2 linked regions of the Homo sapiens genome follow. The protein of the gene in region 2 interacts with the protein of the main gene of each other region in a biochemical or structural test. Each region holds a gene or a part of one and is shown on either strand. Other genes may lie near its edges.

Region 1 (8,008 bases), on a different chromosome or scaffold from region 2:
AAGCCCCCTGGGAATGCAGAGGAGTCCAGCATACTTCAACATGCAGGTGGTCTCCCAGACCCTGTGGGTTTCTGTTTCCCCTCTGCTGAGGAATATGTGATATTTCAACCACCACAAAACAAAACAGAGCAAACAGGGCAACTTAGGTGTCCAAACTGAAGTTGCTGCCAGGCACGGTGGTTCTCACCAGTAATCCCAGCACTTTGGGAGGCCAAGGTGGGCAGATCACCTGAGGTCAGGAGTTTGAGACCAGCCTGGCCAACATGGCAAAACCCTGTCTCCACTAAAAATACAAAACTGAGCTGGGCATGGTGGTGGGCACCTGTAATCCCAGCTACTTGGGAGGCTGAGGCAGGAGAATCACTTGAACCCAGGAGACAGAGGTTGCAGTGAGCCAAGATCACACCACTGTACTCCAGCCTGGGTGAGAGAGTGACATGCCGTCTCAAAAAAAAAAATTGAAGTTGTTGATTTTGTGCATTTTTTGAGCCCCAAAAGGTGGCATGCATCTGTAGTCCCACTAGTCCTGAGGCTGAGGTGAGAAGATCATTTGAGCTCAAGAATTTGAGACCAGCCTGGGCTGCATAGTGAGGTTTTGTCTCTTTTAAAAAAAAAAAATTGGCTGGGCGCAGTGGCTCGTGCCTGTAATCCTAGAACTTTGGGAGGCCGAGGCGGGCGGATCACGAGGTCAGGAGATCAAGACCATCCTGGTTAACATGGTGAAACCCCGTCTCTACTAAAAAAATACAAAAAAATTAGCCGGGTGTGATGGCGGGCGCCTATAGTCCCAGCTACTCGGGAGGCTGAGGCAGAATGGCGTGAACCCGGGAGGCGGAGTTTGCAGTGAGCCGAGATCGCGCCACTGCACTTCCAGCCTGGGTGACAGAGCGAGACTCCGTCTCAAAAAAATAAAATAAAAATTATACTATTATTTTATTTTATATAGGTGGACAGTTTTATATGTGTAGATTTTAATATATATTTTTATACATAAAATAAATCTATATACAGAAATTTGTAAGTTTAAGATACAGGCTGGGTACTGTGGCTCATGCCCTATAATCCCACTTGGGGAGGCCAAGGTGGGCAGATTGCTAGAGCCCAGGAATTTGAGACCAGCCTTACATAGCAAGACCCCATCTCTACAAAAAAATACAAAAAAAAAAAAAAAAAGTCAGGTGTGGTGGCACATTCCTGTAGTCCCAGCTCCTGGGGAGGCTGAGGTGGGAAGATCACCTGAGTCTGGGAGGTCAAGACTGCATGAGCCCACCTTCATCCCTAGGATGCAAGGCTGGTTCAACATATGCAAAAAAAAAAAAAGACTGCATAAGCCGTGATCACGCTGCTGCAGTCCAGACTGGGTTGTAACCCAGTCAGACCCTGCTGAAAGAAAAAAAAAATTTTTAACTTATAAATTTGTCTTATTAACTTATAAGTTTACATACGTAGTTTTATTTGATTTTATTTTTTGAGACAGAGTTTCACTCTTGTCACCCAGGCTGGAGTGCAGTGGCACGATCTCGGCTCCATGCAAACTCTGCCTCCCGGGTTCAAGTGATTCTCTTGTCTCAGCCTCCCAAGTAGCTGGGACTACAGGTGCATGCCCCCTTGCCTGGCTAATTTTTGTATTTTTAGTAGAGATGGGGTTTCACCATGTTGGCCAGGCTGGTCTCGAACTCCTGACCTCAGGTGATCCGCCCCCCCCGCCTTGGCCTCTCAAGATGCTGGGATTACAGGCATGGGCCACCGCGCTGGCCTTGTAGTTGTATTTTAGATAGATAACTATAGATTCACTTTACATACAACAAAATGCACAGTTCTTCAATGTTCCATGCTACAAGTTTTGACAGTTGTATATAGCTACCTAACCTCCACCCAAAACAGTATATGGAACTTTTCTATCACCTAAGAAAATTCCCTTGAATCCCTTTTTTTTTTTTTTTTTTTTCCAATAACATACAGAGGTGGAGGCCGGGTGCCATGGCTCACGCCTGTAATCCCAGCACTTTGGGAGGCCGAGGCGGGCGAATCACAAGGTCAGGAGTTCGAGACCAGCCTGACCAACATGGTGAAACCCCGTCTCTACTAAAAATATAAAAATTAGCCGGGCGTGGTGGTGCACACCTGTAATCCCAGCTACTCAGGAGGCTGAGGCAAGAGAATCACTTGTTTCCAGGAGGCAAAGGTTGCAGTGAGCCGAGATTATGCCATTGCACTCCAGCCTGGGCAAGAGAGCGAGACTGTCTTAAAAAAAATAAATTAATCAAAAAAAAATATATATATATATATACACACACACACACATATCTACATACATACAGAGGTGAGGTCTTGCCTATATTGCCCAGGCTGGTCTCGAACTCCTGGGCTCAAGCGATCTTCCCACCTCGACCCCCCAAAATGCTGGGATTACAGGGGTGAGCCACCGCACCGGGCCGAATCCCTCTCTTGACACGTCACCTCCCCACCAAAGGCAGTTGTCCTTTCTGACTTCAAACACCGTGCCTTTGTTTTGTCTGGGCGTGGACATGATATAAATGGAATCATTCATGTTCTTTTGTGTCTTCTTTTGCTTAACATAATCAGTTTGAAATGCAGCCACATTGTTGAGTGGATGCATGGGCTGTCCTGTTGGCGGTGGTGGTGGTGAGTGGAATTCCATTGTATGACTATAGCTCAGTCTGTGATTCCATTTTCCTGTGGATGGACCCACAGGCTGTTTCCCATGTCGGGCTATCTAAGAATCAGGTGCCTTGCGTTTCTGACGGCTGGACTGGAGGTGTCTTCCTCTGGGGTAGGCTCTGCAGGGCCACCTGCTGGACCATTTTGGGGCATGACCACTGACGTTCACCTCCCCATTTGTCCCCATCAGTGAGCCCCATGCCCGTTTCTACGCGGCCCAGATCGTCCTGACCTTTGAGTATCTGCACTCGCTGGATCTCATCTACAGGGACCTGAAGCCGGAGAATCTGCTCATTGACCAGCAGGGCTACATTCAGGTGCCCACCAGGCCGGGCGAGGGGCAGCCCTGGGGAAGCCGTGGCCTGGACCCTTCCTCCCTGCCAACTGCCTGTTCTTGTGCCCACAGGTGACAGACTTCGGTTTCGCCAAGCGCGTGAAGGGCCGCACTTGGACCTTGTGCGGCACCCCTGAGTACCTGGCCCCTGAGATTATCCTGAGCAAAGTAGGAGCCTCCCCAGCCCTCCCCTTCCCCTGAGGCCGGCTCTGCTCTCCTGCTCTCGCCTCCTCCTCACCCTGTGCCCCCCCATCTTGCTCCAGGGCTACAACAAGGCCGTGGACTGGTGGGCCCTGGGGGTTCTTATCTATGAAATGGCCGCTGGCTACCCGCCCTTCTTCGCAGACCAGCCCATCCAGATCTATGAGAAGATCGTCTCTGGGAAGGTGAGGTCCGGATGTGGGGACACAGCCCTGGAAGAAACAGACCGTTCCCTGCTCACCCATCCTATTCCCTGGGGAGCCCTGCTTGTTGTCAGAATAATCTAGAAGTTCCTTAAGTCAGGCCAGGTGGTGAAGCTGGACGCGCCGGCCACACTGAGGCCAACACCTCAAGCCCCCTTGCTGTCCAGCCCCAACCCCGCGGTTCCAGAATCCCATGGGCTTCCAAAATCCCGAGCCTCACGGGAACATCTTGGCCACAGAACACAAACCGCCCTGCCAGACGACCCTCCTTTTCGCTCCTCATCCCAGTTAGTGTGAGTTTTCGCAAATTCCAAGGCAGAAAAACGAATGTATTTGGTTCCTGTTCCCAGGTGCTGTCCATAGCCTCACCCAGGATTGCCCTCACTTAGCATTTATAGCCCATGCTTCCTCTCCCAAACCCAGACTTGCCTAACTCTGAGGGTTCAGATGAGGGGTGGTGAAGCCATCTCAGCTCACATCTATGACAGGTGCAAAGTGCCCACCATCCACCAGGCCCCAGAATCCCCATCAGTCACACCCTGAGATAGTGGCACCCTCTGTAGGAGAGGTGAGGAAACAGGCTGGGAAAAGGGATGTGTCTTGGCCAAGATCACACTTTGGTGAGTAGGTAATCACCGTAGGCAATCATTGTAGGCACTGATGGCCGGAGAGAGGTTGGGGACCCCACCTCTGCCCTCAGCTCAACCACCTTGCTGGGAAGACCCGACCATCCCCCGACTTGGTCCAGCATCTCCTACACAGGAGCTTTTGGTTGGCCCGGAGTCATGACACTGTGGTGGGAGCACCCTCAGGCTCAGCCTGGGCCCCAGTCCCAGCTCTGCCACCGACTGGCTTTGAAACTTTGGGGCTGGGTACAATGGCTCACACCTGTAATGCCAGCACCTTGGGAAGTGGAGGCTTGAGGCCAGGAGTTCCAGACCAGCCTGGGCAACATAGCCAGACCCCATCTCTAAAAAAAAAAAAAAAAAAACAAACTGGCCGGGCGCGGTGGCTTACACCTGTAATCCCAGCACTGTGGGAAGCCAAGGCGGGCAGATCACCTGAGGTCGGGAGTTCGAGACCAGCCTGACTAACATGGTGAAACTCCGTCTCTACTAAAAACACACACAAAAAAAATTAGCTGGGTATAGTGGTGGGCGCCTGTAATCCCAGCTACTTGGGAGGCTGAGGCAGGAGAATCACTTGAACCCAGGAGGCGGAGGTTGCAGTGAGCCAAGATCACACCATTGTACTCCAGCCTGGGCAACAGGGCAGGACTCTGTCTCAAAAAAAAAAAAAAAAAAAAAAAACTAAAAATTAGCTGGGCGTGATGGTGCACCCCTGTGTTCCCAGCTCATCGGGAGGGTGAGGCAGGAGGATCGCTTGAGCCCAGAAGTGAGCTGTGAGCTGTGATTGCATCACTGCAGTCTAGCCTGGGTCACAGAGCCAGACCCTGTCTTTTAAAAAAATTCAGGCAAGTGGGGTGCCCCAGCTGGACACATAGCATCACTAAAAGAGAAAGATGAAGGCCAGGCGCGGTGGCTCACACCTATAATCCCAGCATTTTGGGAGGCCAAGGCAGGTGGATCACGAGGTCAGGAGTTCAAGACCAGCCTGGCTAACATGGTGAAACCCTGTCTCTACTAAAAATACAAAAATTAGCTGGGCGTGGTGGCGGGTGCCTGTAATCCCAGCTACTCGGGAGGCTGAGGCAGAGAACTGCTTGAACCCGGGAGACAGAGGTTGTAGTGAGCCGAGATTGCGCCACTGCACTTCAGCCTGGGTGACAGAGCAAGACTCTGTCTCAAAAAAAGGGAAAGATGAGGCATCTGCCACCGGACCAAAAGAAACTGCCAAGAAAATGGCCCAGAGTTGGCCGGGTGTGGTGGCTCACGCCTGTAATCCCAGCACTTTGGGAGGCCGAGGCGGGCGGATCACGAGGTCAGGAGTTTAAGACCAGCCTGACCAACATGGTGAAACCCCGTCTCTACTAAAAATACAAAAATTAGCCGGATATGGTGGCACACACCTGTAATCCCAGCTACTCAGGAGTCTGAGGCAGGAGAATCACTTGAAACCGGGAGGCAGAGGTTGCAGTGAGCTGAGATTGTGCCACTGCACTCCAGCCTGGGCAACAGAGCAAGACTCCATCTCAAAAAAAAAAAAGAAAAAAAGAAAAAAAAATGTCCCAGAGTGGGAAAAAAAAGAAAGAAAAAAACACAGAAGATCCCACAGGAGAAGATGCACATGACTCCCTTCTTTGTAGCATTTTCTAGTTCCCCCGCACCGTCAGTGGTATTATCTCCCTCGTGCAGCCCTGGCATATCTGCCCCACATCTGAGAGGCATGCGCAGGCCCAGAGAGGTTAAGGGCCATGGCCAAGGTCACACAGCGTGTAAGAGGCACAGCAGGAACAAGAAGTCGTTTCTTGCAACTATAACTCCAGTGATGACTTGCATACAAGGCGTGGGCTCAGAGGGTTTGGGGAAAACTTTCAAGAAGAGTTGAGCTGGGCTTTAAAGAACGGAAGAGCCTTAGCTATGCAGAAAGAGAGGAGAGAAAAAGTTTGTCATAAGCAAGAATATTTCAGAAGTCTCCAGACCCCAGCAGAGATGCCTTAAGCAGCAGCAGCAGCAGCTGAGAATGCAAGTTCTAGAGTCCAGTAGACCTGAGATGGAATTGCCCCATCACACACCTCAATGTGACCTAGGAAGAGCTGTTTAACCCAAGCCTCAGTTTCCCCTTCTCTGAAATGGAAATCATCATAGCACTTGCCTTAGAGCAATGGTTCTTAAAAGGGACCCCTTTCCAGCAGCACCATTGCTGGGGAATTTGTTAGAAATGCAGATTCTTGGGCCAGGCACGGTGGCTCACACCTGTAATCCCAACACTTTGGGAGGCCAAGGCAGGTGGATCACCTAAGGTCAAGAGTTCAAGACCAGCCTGACCAATATGGTGAAACCCCGTCTCTACTAAAAATACAAAAATTAGCCAGGTGTCTTGGCGTGAGCCTGTAATCCCAGCTACTCAGGAGGCTGAGACAGGAGAATTCCTTGAACCCAGGAGGCGGAGGTTGCAGTGAGCCCAGATCGCACCACTGCACTCCAGCCTGGGCTACAGAGTGAGGCTATTTTTTTTTTTTTTTTTTTTTTTTTTTCAAAAAAAGAAATGCAGATTCTTGCTGGGTGTGGTGGCTCACGCCTATAATCCTAGCACTTTGGGAGGCCAAAGCAGGAGGATCGCTTGAGCCTAGAAGTTCAAGACCAGCCTGGGCAACGTAGTGAGACCCTGTCTCTACAAAAACTTCTTAAAATAACTAACTCTTGAATTTTTAAAGTTTTTAAAGAAATGCAGATTCTCAGGCCACAGTATCAGACTTCCTAAATTGGAAACTGTAGGGTAGGCTCAAGGAGCTGTTTTACAAGATGCTGGCAGGCACTCTGCTTTGGAGGCCCACACCCAGTAGGACCGTTGGATGGAGAAAGAAGCATCATGGGCTTCCCAAGTTCCAGACCAGCTTCCCACCCTGTCCTTGTACCCCTTCCTCCAGGTGCGCTTCCCTTCCCACTTCAGCTCTGACTTGAAGGACCTGCTGCGGAACCTCCTGCAGGTAGATCTCACCAAGCGCTTTGGGAACCTCAAGAATGGGGTCAACGATATCAAGAACCACAAGTGGTTTGCCACAACTGACTGGATTGCCATCTACCAGAGGAAGGTGGGCCTCCCCTCCTTAAGCCTGCTGAGGGTTTGGGAGCAGGCCAAGAGTCAGGGAGGACAGCCAATAGAGAAATAGAGAAGAGAACACAGGTTCAGGAGCAACCTAGAGTAGAGAGCTTAGAGCAGTGGGGTCTAGAAATGGGATTCTGGGGTCATTTGGCCATTCCATGACCTTGTGCAACAGATGCCTCTCTCTGGGAAGTAATTTCCCCTTTGATGAGTTGCTACATTAAGAGTTTCGGGCTGTTAAGAGGAATCCATAACCTAATGGTAAGCACAGGCCTGAGTCAGAGTAAATATCTCTTGAATGTTAGGCCATTCGCATTTATTGTTGTAATAATGATTATGTTGAATGCTGAGGTCTGGGTGATTCTTGATCCCTCTCCAGGTGGAAGCTCCCTTCATACCAAAGTTTAAAGGCCCTGGGGATACGAGTAACTTTGACGACTATGAGGAAGAAGAAATCCGGGTCTCCATCAATGAGAAGTGTGGCAAGGAGTTTTCTGAGTTTTAGGGGCATGCCTGTGCCCCCATGGGTTTTCTTTTTTCTTTTTTCTTTTTTTTGGTCGGGGGGGTGGGAGGGTTGGATTGAACAGCCAGAGGGCCCCAGAGTTCCTTGCATCTAATTTCACCCCCACCCCACCCTCCAGGGTTAGGGGGAGCAGGAAGCCCAGATAATCAGAGGGACAGAAACACCAGCTGCTCCCCCTCATCCCCTTCACCCTCCTGCCCCCTCTCCCACTTTTCCCTTCCTCTTTCCCCACAGCCCCCCAGCCCCTCAGCCCTCCCAGCCCACTTCTGCCTGTTTTAAACGAGTTTCTCAACTCCAGTCAGACCAGGTCTTGCTGGTGTATCCAGGGACAGGGTATGG
Region 2 (9,989 bases):
CTCTAGCTCCTGGGCTTAAGTGATCTTCCTGCCTCATCCTCCCAAAATGTTGGGATTACAGGTATGAGCCACCCCAACCAGCCCAATCAAAAGAATATTTATTTATTTATTTATTTATTTATTTTTATTTTTTATTTTTGGGGGTAGAGATGAGGCCTTGCCGTGTTGCCCAGCCTGGTCTCAAATTCTTGTCCTCAAGCAGTTCTCTCACCTGGTCCGCCAAAGCACTGGGATTACAGGCTTGAGTATCACACCTAGCTGTTTTTCAGTTTTTTTAATTCAAAAAAACATTTTGTTAAGAGGTAGTGTATTGCTCTGTCACCCAGGCTGGAGTGCAGTGATGTGATCAGAGCTCACTGTAGCCTCAACCTCCTAAGCCCAAGTGATCCTCTTGCCTCAGTCTCCCGAGTAGCTGGGACTACAGGCGTGTGCTACCATGCCAGGCTAATTTTTTAATTTTTTGTAGAGACTGGGTCTCCCTATGTTGCCTAAGCTGGTCTTAAACTCCCAGGCTCAAGCCCCACAACCTGCTGGGATTACAGGTGTGAACACCACGCCCAGCCCTTTGTCTTTTTTCACAGTGATTGTTTGGAAAAGTTCAGAGAAGTCCCAGTTCTGCAGTCTGATTTGTTCCTGATTTGTGTTGCCTTTAACTGGAAATTGGTCTAAAGGCCTCAGTGAGTCCAGGTTTGCGCTTTTTGATGAAAACCCTGCCCAGGAGTGGCATATATATTTTATAAGCCCACTAGTAGGTGTGTGATGCCAGCTTTTCCAGCTGTTAGTGATGGCCGTCTGGTCCCTGATAAGGGCAGTGACATCAGACTTCTCTGTTGAAGGGAACCTGAGGCACCCTCTCAATCAGCCCTCCCAAAGGCATGTGTCACCCCCAGTGTTGAGTAAGAGGGAAGCTCAGCACTGTGAAGTGACGTGCTCGGGTCTAAGGCCTCTGCCTCCCCTTGGCCCTATGCCCAGATTGCATTTGGTCACCTGGACAGACTGTAGGGCTTAGACCTTGGCTTAGCTGGTTAGGATCACTTTCCCAGGGGGAGCATCCTTCCTGCTTTAGTCTCATTCTCTGAAGATAAATGGCAATATTAAGAAGCAGTGCCCAACCCCACCTCATCCCTACTGAGGCCCAGATATGATTGTGGGCAGAGAAGCCTCAGTAGGGATCCTGGCCATTTTGCAGATCTGTTCTTGAGGGCCTGCTGACAGCATTGAGCCTATCCTAAGAGTGGAATTCAGTCGAGGGCTTTACACTTACTATCTAGTCAGTTCTCCATCCAGCCCTATGCAGCAATTGCTATCCTCTCTCTCTCTTTTTTTTTTTTTTTTTTGAGACACAGAATCTCGCTATGTTGCCCAGGCTGGAGTACTGTGGCTATCCGTAGGTATGATTATAGCACACTACAGCCTTGAATGCCTGGGTTCCAGGGATTCTCTTGCCTCAGCCTCCTGAATTCTTGGGACTGCAGGCATGTGCCATCACACCTCGCTTGCTATTCTTTATCCCCAATTTTCGGACAGGAAATGGGCTTCTAGAATAAATGTAGTCAGACCTCCATTATCCATGCGTTCTACATCCATGGGTACAACCCGCTGTGGATCGAAAATGTAGTTAGGCCTAGGATGACTGTGTCTGTACTGGACATGTACAAACTTTTTTTCTTGTTGTTATTCCCTAAACAATGCAGTCTAACAACAACTTACATAGCATTTACATTGTATTAGGTATTACAGTAGTAATCCGGAGATGACTTAAAATATATGGAAGAATGTGCAGAGGTTAAATGCAGATACTGTGCCATTTTATATAAGAGACTTGATCTCAGCCACTGAAGTTGAGTTTAAAAAACAAAGTAAAAAAATATATGTAAAGGAGTTAAGTATTCATGGATTTTGGGATTCATGGGGATCCTGGAGCCAATCCCCTGTGGATACCAAGGGACAACTCTAATTTACTTCTCAAGACATCTAGCCGGGCACGGTGGCTCACACTTGTAATCCCAGCATTTTGGGAGGCTGATGTGAGGATCGCCTGAGCCCAGCATTTTGAGGCAAGCCTGGGCAACATAGCAAGACCCTGTCTCTAAAATAAAATGTGTGTGTGTATTTAGTGGGGAATGGTGGTGCATGCCTGTGGTTCCAGCTACTCGGGAGGCGGAGGTGGGAGGATCGCTTGAGCCCAGGAGGTTGAGGCTGCAGTGAGCTATGATTGTGCCACTGCACTCCGTCCTGGGTGACAGAGCAACACCCTGTCTCAAAAAAAAAAAAAAACTTACAGCTAGGGAGTAAAGGAGGCCCTGAGCAGCTTGATAGGTGCTGTGCAGCTGGCAGGGGGCGCCGTTGCCTACAGAAGGGGCTAAGCCCATCCTGAACCCCAACTCCTATTGCTCCCACTCAGCTCACTCTTAGGAGGGAGTGGCCTCGCCACCTAATGACCAAGAGGAGGTGCTGGATCTGGCTACCTAAGATCAGAGAGGTGAAGCCATCAGCCCCTATTGCCCAGAGCTTCTTCATCTGTGAGGGGGATAGTCATGGCAACCACTTGGGACTGCCCTTGGGAGATTTAAATGGGTCTAGGCCTAGCTCTGATGATCTAGGCACTGTATCCCGCACAGATGAGGAAGCTGAGGGCTCCAGAGAGGCAGAGTGAACAGCTGAGCCCCAGGGAGCCTTCCCGAGCTGAAGGCCTCACACCCTACGACGTGTGTACCTTCTGCCGGACAGTCCCTGTCTGAGGTGGCCATGGTGTCTGTGTTGAGCTGGGGATGAAGGGAGTCATGGGGGCGGCAGGTGTGATTGAGTCATTTGGCTGGCCTTCCTGGCAGCCAGGCCATGGTGGGTGAGGGACACCAAACTGCTCATGCCACAGCTGACATATCAGATAGTTCTCTTGTCACTCTTGACTCATCAGTGCCTGGCCCCTGGCTGCCTGCAGGGCCACCATCTGTGCATCCTGGGCCAGTGCCCAGGGAACTTTCTGGAACCCCAGATGCTATCTGAGGACACAAGGGTACAGGGGATGGTGAAGTTTGAGGTTCCTGAAACCCTCCACCAGGTATGTCTGGCTCTGCTGTTTCTGGCCTGTGACTCCTCAGGCTTTGGTTACCATGTCTACAAAATGGGAACAACAAATCATAGCTGAGTTTGACCCAGGGATTAGATGACATGTATGAACATGCCCGGCCATGTCTATTTTTGCTCATCATCCTGCCCCCAGCACAAGGGCCTGGCACACAGTAGGTATTTAGTACAGGACCGCGGAATGAATGAATGCATTGGGCCTTAGAACACAGCAGAGGCTCTGGGGCCTGAAGGCTGTGGTGTGAGGAGGGGGTGGGGACACTGAAGCCCAGCCCAGTTCCCTCTGCAGCATCTTGTCACCTGAGGGACGGGGAAGAGTGTGGGGTCCTACAGAGAGGAGACATGGGTATGGGGCTAGGGGAGAGGTATCTGCATTGTTCCTGAGACCTCTGCCCCACTCCTGGACAGACCACCATCCTGGAGAGAGTGGAGCAGAAACAGGAGAGGGACCACAAATTCACCTAACCTGCCCCATCCAACGAAGGATGATCATGATAAACGTGCTCTTAGTGAGATATTACTGTGTGCCCGACTTGAGCCAACTACTGTGCCTCTGCATTTCATGTTTGTTTTGTCTTATAATAACCATCAGGAAGAGGTGATCCCTGTTCTACACTGGAGAAACTGAGGCTCAGCCTAGATAAATGGACACAGGTGAAACAGCTAGCAAGGAGCACAGCTGGGATCTGAAGCCCGGGCGGACCTAGGAGTGGTTCTAGCCTCAGTTTATTCCTCCTGGGCAGCCATGCTCAGCCCAGAGAGCTGGGAGAACCAGGTGGTGGGAGTGGGGGTGTCTCAAGGTTGTGTCCTGGTGTTAATCCCTGGGGCCCCTGGCCATATCTAGCTTGTGGTGAGTGTCTCTGGCCTGTTGGAGCAGCCACTGGAATGCCTGGGGCTTGAGTGGCCCTTTGTGGTTGCAGTTCCCTTGGCAATGAAGAAACACTGCTGAGGTCAAGAGCTCAGATTGCCAGAGGGGAAACCCAGCCCTCCTTCTTTGCATGGCCCCCTGCTGGGAAGGGCCACAGCTACCCCCCACCCTCGCCCTCTGCCAGACACCCAGAGGAGGCTCTTTCCAGTGGCACAGTCATGGGGTTGGAGGGGGCACAGGCAGCCCAGCCAGGATTCCTCATGGGAAGTGTGTGGTGGCTCTTTAGACTTGCCTGCTAACGGGAGGCTCTGCCCATAACTTCCTCTTCCCACTGGAGTTCGTTCAGGAAGCCAGAACCAGCATGGGGATGCTCAGGCCTCCAAGATCCCCTAGGACCATGGGCAGGCCACCCCTCAGCCCAGCTTTTGCCTACTTTGAAGACCTCAAGGACAAGAGGGCCCTAATCTTACCGAGCCAGGCCCTCCTCAATCCAAGGCCTTCTTAGGCGTTGCCAAGGAAACTGATGCAGCAGCCAAAGAGCCTGGCCCAGGTCTCCATGACAACCTACCACAGCCCACCAGGGTCCATCCATCTGTGATGTCACCTGAGCCCCAAATGGATGCCCTCCCACCCCCACCACACTTGTCACAATCAGATGTCACAGTCTGATAGCAGGTCCCTGTCACAAAATACCTCACAGCCTGACCTGCAACCCTCAGACCCCTGAGAGATGAGCAGGGAGCTAAGACACTCCTCATGCCTTGACCACACCCTGTGTTTATGCCCCTTTTGGGTGGGGGCCTGAACCTCCAGGCCCTGGATGTGCCCTGGGTGGCTGGCTCAGCCTACAGCTAGAGGGAAGAAGGGAGACCTTGACGACTCGAAGTGGCTGGCTCCTGCTGGCATTCAACACCCATTGGCCTGGATTTCCCCAACTCTGGGCAACTTCCAGTCCAGGAGCAGAATAACCAGAGCCACGGCCAGGGCCAGGGCTGGGGCAGATTATTTATTTTTAGCAGAGTTGCTGGCAGCTGCCTGGTGGGTGCTGGGAGGTGGGATGGGGACTGAGTTTAATCCCTTCCCTCTTCTGGGCTGGGGTATCCTCCCCAGGGTTCAAGCAGGCATCTCCACCTGCAACTCTGTCAGAGCTGCCCCCACCCCCAACAGCCCTCTCAGGGCCCCCAGGGGCTCATGGGGTGACACCAACCCTCACACTGAAGGTTAGGCTCATTAGGGAGAATCTTCAACTCCAGGATGGGGAGTGGAAAGGATTTTGTGTGAATTTAGGACACCCCCTAAATTCTAGCTCAGACCTGAGCCTATGGGGAGTGGGTGTCATGGGCAGAGAAGGGGGATCTCTGTCCAGCCTGTAACTAGCTTACTTGCTAAAAGGACGAGCCGGGACTTGGGGAGAGGAAAGGGAGAATTCAGTCTCACGGGGCCAGACCGAATTCTTCTCCAGAGGGCAGTTGCTGCTTTTGGCTGATTGGGTTTACCCCGCTGCCTGCCTCCCCATCACGTACTCCCCCCGCAACCTCGCTCTCTCTCTCCTTCTCACACACACCCTCAGCTCCGGACCTCGCCTACCGGTCAGCCCCTCTATTCCCAGACAGCTACCGCTACTCCCCTGGCGGGTAGGGCGGGGTGTCGGGGATGTAAGGTCCGAGGAAGAGGGTGGGGGATTCCCCTGGTGGGGGTGGACAGACACGTCAGCCCCCGCAGCAGCGTGGACCGGGGGCGGGAGCGGGGGCGGGTGGAGGCTTAAATAGGCGGCTCTGGAGCCAGAGCCCAGTGCGGGCTGAGAAGGCGGTGGCTGCAGCAGCAGCGGCGGCGGAAACCCTAAAGTCCGAGTCCGGACTACGAGTGCGTGGCCTCCTAATCCGGATCCTAGTCCTGAGCGTGTCTGTGTGCGAGTGGGTGAGTGTCCTGGCGGAGCGGGGTCGGGGCGGCTGCAGATGGATGCGCCAGGTCCGGAGGGGTCCCGGGTGAGGGCGCCGCGACCTGGGGGCTGGGGGAGGGCTGCGGCGGGACCTCGGCCGGAGCATCCCGCCTGACTCCGGGTTGGGCAGGTGCGCCCCGGGTCCCGCCTCCCTCGCGGCTTACACGGCCACTCGGGTTCCTGATCCCCTAGACGGTCCCGGACGCGATGACCCTGAACGGCGGCGGCAGCGGAGCGGGCGGGAGCCGCGGTGGGGGCCAGGAGCGCGAGCGCCGTCGGGGCAGCACACCCTGGGGCCCCGCCCCGCCGCTGCACCGCCGCAGCATGCCGGTGGACGAGCGCGACCTGCAGGCGGCGCTGACCCCGGGTGCCCTGACGGCGGCCGCGGCCGGGACGGGGACCCAGGGTCCCAGGCTGGACTGGCCCGAGGACTCCGAGGACTCGCTCAGCTCAGGGGGCAGCGACTCAGACGAGAGCGTTTACAAGGTGCTGCTGCTGGGGGCGCCCGGCGTGGGCAAGAGCGCCCTGGCGCGCATCTTCGGCGGTGTGGAGGACGGGCCTGAAGCAGAGGCAGCAGGTGAGGGGACCCAGCTGTTCAGGGGAGGGGCGATCCCGGGGCTAGGACTAGGGGCTGAGACCGGTACTCAAAGCCGCAAATACCGTGGAATTATAGTTGTTGTTGTTGTTATTATTATTATTATTATTATTTTATTATTATTTTGAGACAGAGTTTCGCTCTTTTTCCCAGGCTGGAGTGCAGTGGCCTCGATCTAGGCTCACTGCAACCTCCGCCTTCAGGTTTCAAGGGATTCTCCTGCCTCAGCCTCCAGAGTAGCTAGGATTACAGGCGCCTGCTACCACGCCCGGCTAATATTTGTGTTTTTAGTAGAGTTGGGGTTTCACCATGTTGGCCAGGCTGGTCTGGAATTTCTGACCTCGTGATCCGCCCACCTTGGCTTCCCAAAGTGCTGGGATTACAGGCGTGAGCCACCGCACCTGGCCAATACTGTGGAATTCTATTGGCGCTTTCAGAATCATGCCTCTACCTACCCACTTCATAAATGGGGAAAGGAAAGGAGAAGGGACACCCCCCAGCCTTTGGTAGGGAAGAAATGCCCAGAGTAGAAGGCCAGGGCATAGATATGGCTACTCTGTGGGATGGGACTGGACATCCCTCCCTGCCTATCAGGGACAGGTCAGAGTTTCTAACCAGAGGGATTTCTAAGAGAGGAGCCCTAGGTGGCCAAGGTCCCCAGGGGGGGCATGTGGGTGGAGGTCAGGCACACCATGCCCTCCAGCCCCCACTTCCCTGCCTGGCACTGCTGTTGCCACATACCAGCATCTGCAAGTGGAGTGGAGGGTAAGGAGGGCTCTGGGGAAGAGTTGGAGGGTGTGGCCAGAACAGGAAACCTGGCAGCAGCGGCTTTGACAACCAGCTGGTAACCTGTCTACTGGCCTTCTGCCTAGGGCACACCTATGATCGCTCCATTGTAGTGGACGGAGAAGAGGCATCACTCATGGTCTACGACATTTGGGAGCAGGTAGGGTGCAAGCAGAGACCCAGGGCAGGGGAGGGAGGAGTGAGTTGGGTTAGAGGTCTGGGAGTGCCAGGCTCGTGTCGGGGGCATGAGGACTGTTGGGCAGATGTGTGTTGTGTGTTCTCCAGGACGGGGGCCGCTGGTTGCCCGGCCACTGCATGGCCATGGGGGATGCCTATGTCATTGTGTACTCAGTGACGGACAAGGGCAGCTTCGAGAAGGCCTCAGAACTGCGGGTCCAGCTGCGGCGTGCACGGCAAACAGATGATGTGCCCATCATCCTCGTGGGCAACAAGAGCGACCTGGTGCGCTCTCGTGAGGTCTCGGTGGATGGTGAGTAGGCGGCAGGTTGCAGGGGGAGGGAGAGCCCAGCTGGGCCCTGATCCAGGCAGTCTTGGCTCAGCTTGAGTCCCTGGGGATCATCAGAGGCTAAAAATGTTCAGAAAGAAAACTGGCGGGGAGGGAAATGGGAGAGAGCTGGTGCCTGCTCACAGGGCTCCGGAAGGCCCCAGAGGGCTGGGGAAAGAACCAAATCTGATAGGGGAGCTGGGCACCGCAGGGCCCTCCTCTCCTGCCCCTCTTGGTCCTGGCCTGGCTGGTTGGGGGGGTAAATGGGTGGAAGAGAGTGTAGGGGAACAGGCCAGGAGGTCAGAGCCTGTGTGCTAGGTCTGGGCCATTCTTAGAGTAGACTTGGCCCTGGGGAAGACCCTTCCCACTTGGCCTCAGCATCCTTTTCTGTGGACCCCAGTACTGAGCCCCTCAGAGGAACCCAGCAGTGACTTGGTGACCTTGCCTCCGCAACCCCAGTCCACTGGATCATTCATCATGATATAACCTCGAATTAAAAAATACTAAGTTGTGCGGGGCATGGGCCAGGGGGTGGCTAACGCCTGTAATCCCAGCACTTTGGGAGGCCGAGGCGGGTGGATCACGAGGTCAGGAGATCGAGACCATCCTGGCTAGCATGGTGAAACCCCATCTCTACTAAAAATACAAAAATTAGCCGGGCGTGGTGGCGGGCGCCTGTAGTCCCAGCTACTCGGGAGGCTGAGGCAGGAGAATGGCGTGAACCCGGGAGGCGGAGCTTTCAGTGAGCAGAGATTGTGCCACTGCACTCCAGCCTGGGAGACAGCGAGACTCTATCTCAGAAAAATAAAATAAAATAAAATAAAATACTAAGTTGTCCAACATAGTTCTCATTTTCCTGTGTTTACTACTGTCGTACTTTGTTTAAATATCAGGCTTCAAATTATTTCAATAAATGGATCTCCTTTTGAGGGCCACTGTTTTGGGGGCTCCTTAAATGCAGGCACTCTGCCTACTGGGTGACGCAGCAGTGCCCAGTACCCTCAGTACAGGAGCTGGGGTCTCTGTGTTTTCGGGGAGGACCTTGCAAATTCTCGAGTGGCAGCTTCCATGGGTGGCCACTGTTGGAGGGGACTCCTCATTCACCCACCCTTTGTTTACTGGTGCCTGCCTTTCCCCACCCACACAGAGGGCCGGGCCTGCGCGGTGGTCTTTGACTGCAAGTTCATTGAGACATCAGCGGCATTGCACCACAATGTCCAGGCGCTGTTTGAAGGTGTCGTGCGCCAGATACGCCTGCGCAGGGACAGCAAAGAAGCCAACGCACGACGGCAAGCAGGCACCCGGAGGCGAGAGAGCCTTGGCAAAAAGGCGAAGCGCTTCTTGGGCCGCATCGTAGCTCGTAACAGCCGCAAGATGGCCTTTCGCGCCAAATCCAAGTCCTGCCACGACCTCTCGGTTCTCTAGGTCCCACCCGCTCCCACTATGGTGGGAGACGAACGGAAGGGTTGGTGGGCTGGCCCAGCCAACTGCCCCGGGTGCCTCAGAGCAGGCTCAGACTCTGGGTCCCTCGGAGCTGCCAGCCGGGCACCCCCAACCTCATGGTCATGGACAGATAGACAGTGCTGCCCTGCGAAGTGGCTCTCAGGGGCCAGTGAGGGCTGGGCCCACAGAGATGCATGCGCAGGCTCATATGCGTCCCAAGCAGCCGCAGCGCAGCCGCCGGGCAGGCCTGCGTGCCGGGAGAGGACTCTGCCTTTTTTCACAGCCCGGGTGTGCCTGCCCTGGAGGGAGGCTCTTCAGTGCGGTAGCTATTTGTTTACATGCAGATTTTTGTAATAAAGGCTATTTCCTGATAGTCATGGCTGTTGACTCTCTTTCCTCCTATCTGGGCGCTTCAGGAGCTGGAAGGATTTCTGAAGTTGAGGGATGGGGGCTCACTGCCCCACCCTAGTGTGTGGCCATGATGTGTTAATGTGAGGGTCCAGATTTAGCCAGCTGGGATGGGCATCGGGTCTGGTTAGAGGTTCAAGGAGCAGGAGACACAAACCCCTCCCAGTCCCTGTTATCCAGATTCTTCTCTTTCTGCACTGGGGCCTGGCGTTGCCCAACTGATTGAGGGTTCAATCACTTCACTGTCCATAAAGGGAAACAGGCTGCTCAGGGGAGCACATTCTGCCCTGGGTCTCACAACCAGGCAGGAACCCTGGGTCTCACAACCAGGCAGGAACCCTGGGTCTCACAACCAGAC

The links. Proteins that work in one complex are often made in the same cells at the same time.
Region 1: of the proteins of RRAD (region 2) and PRKACA, one has a biochemical effect on the other in vitro, tested with the Homo sapiens proteins (2 studies listed by BioGRID).

The regions. Positions count from the first base shown.
Region 1 is NC_000019.10:14,092,755-14,100,762, reverse strand, and holds part of PRKACA (cAMP-dependent protein kinase catalytic subunit alpha), read left to right. Parts: intron 1-2,872; coding exon 2,873-2,999; intron 3,000-3,088; coding exon 3,089-3,184; intron 3,185-3,279; coding exon 3,280-3,402; intron 3,403-6,970; coding exon 6,971-7,135; intron 7,136-7,525; coding exon 7,526-7,651; 3' UTR 7,652-8,008.
Region 2 is NC_000016.10:66,921,292-66,931,280, reverse strand, and holds RRAD (GTP-binding protein RAD), read left to right. Parts: upstream 1-5,745; 5' UTR 5,746-5,872; intron 5,873-6,077; exon of another isoform or gene 6,078-6,086; 5' UTR 6,087-6,101; coding exon 6,102-6,471; intron 6,472-7,361; coding exon 7,362-7,435; intron 7,436-7,560; coding exon 7,561-7,765; intron 7,766-8,927; coding exon 8,928-9,205; 3' UTR 9,206-9,596; downstream 9,597-9,989. UniProt on the Homo sapiens protein: May regulate basal voltage-dependent L-type Ca(2+) currents and be required for beta-adrenergic augmentation of Ca(2+) influx in cardiomyocytes, thereby regulating increases in heart rate and contractile force.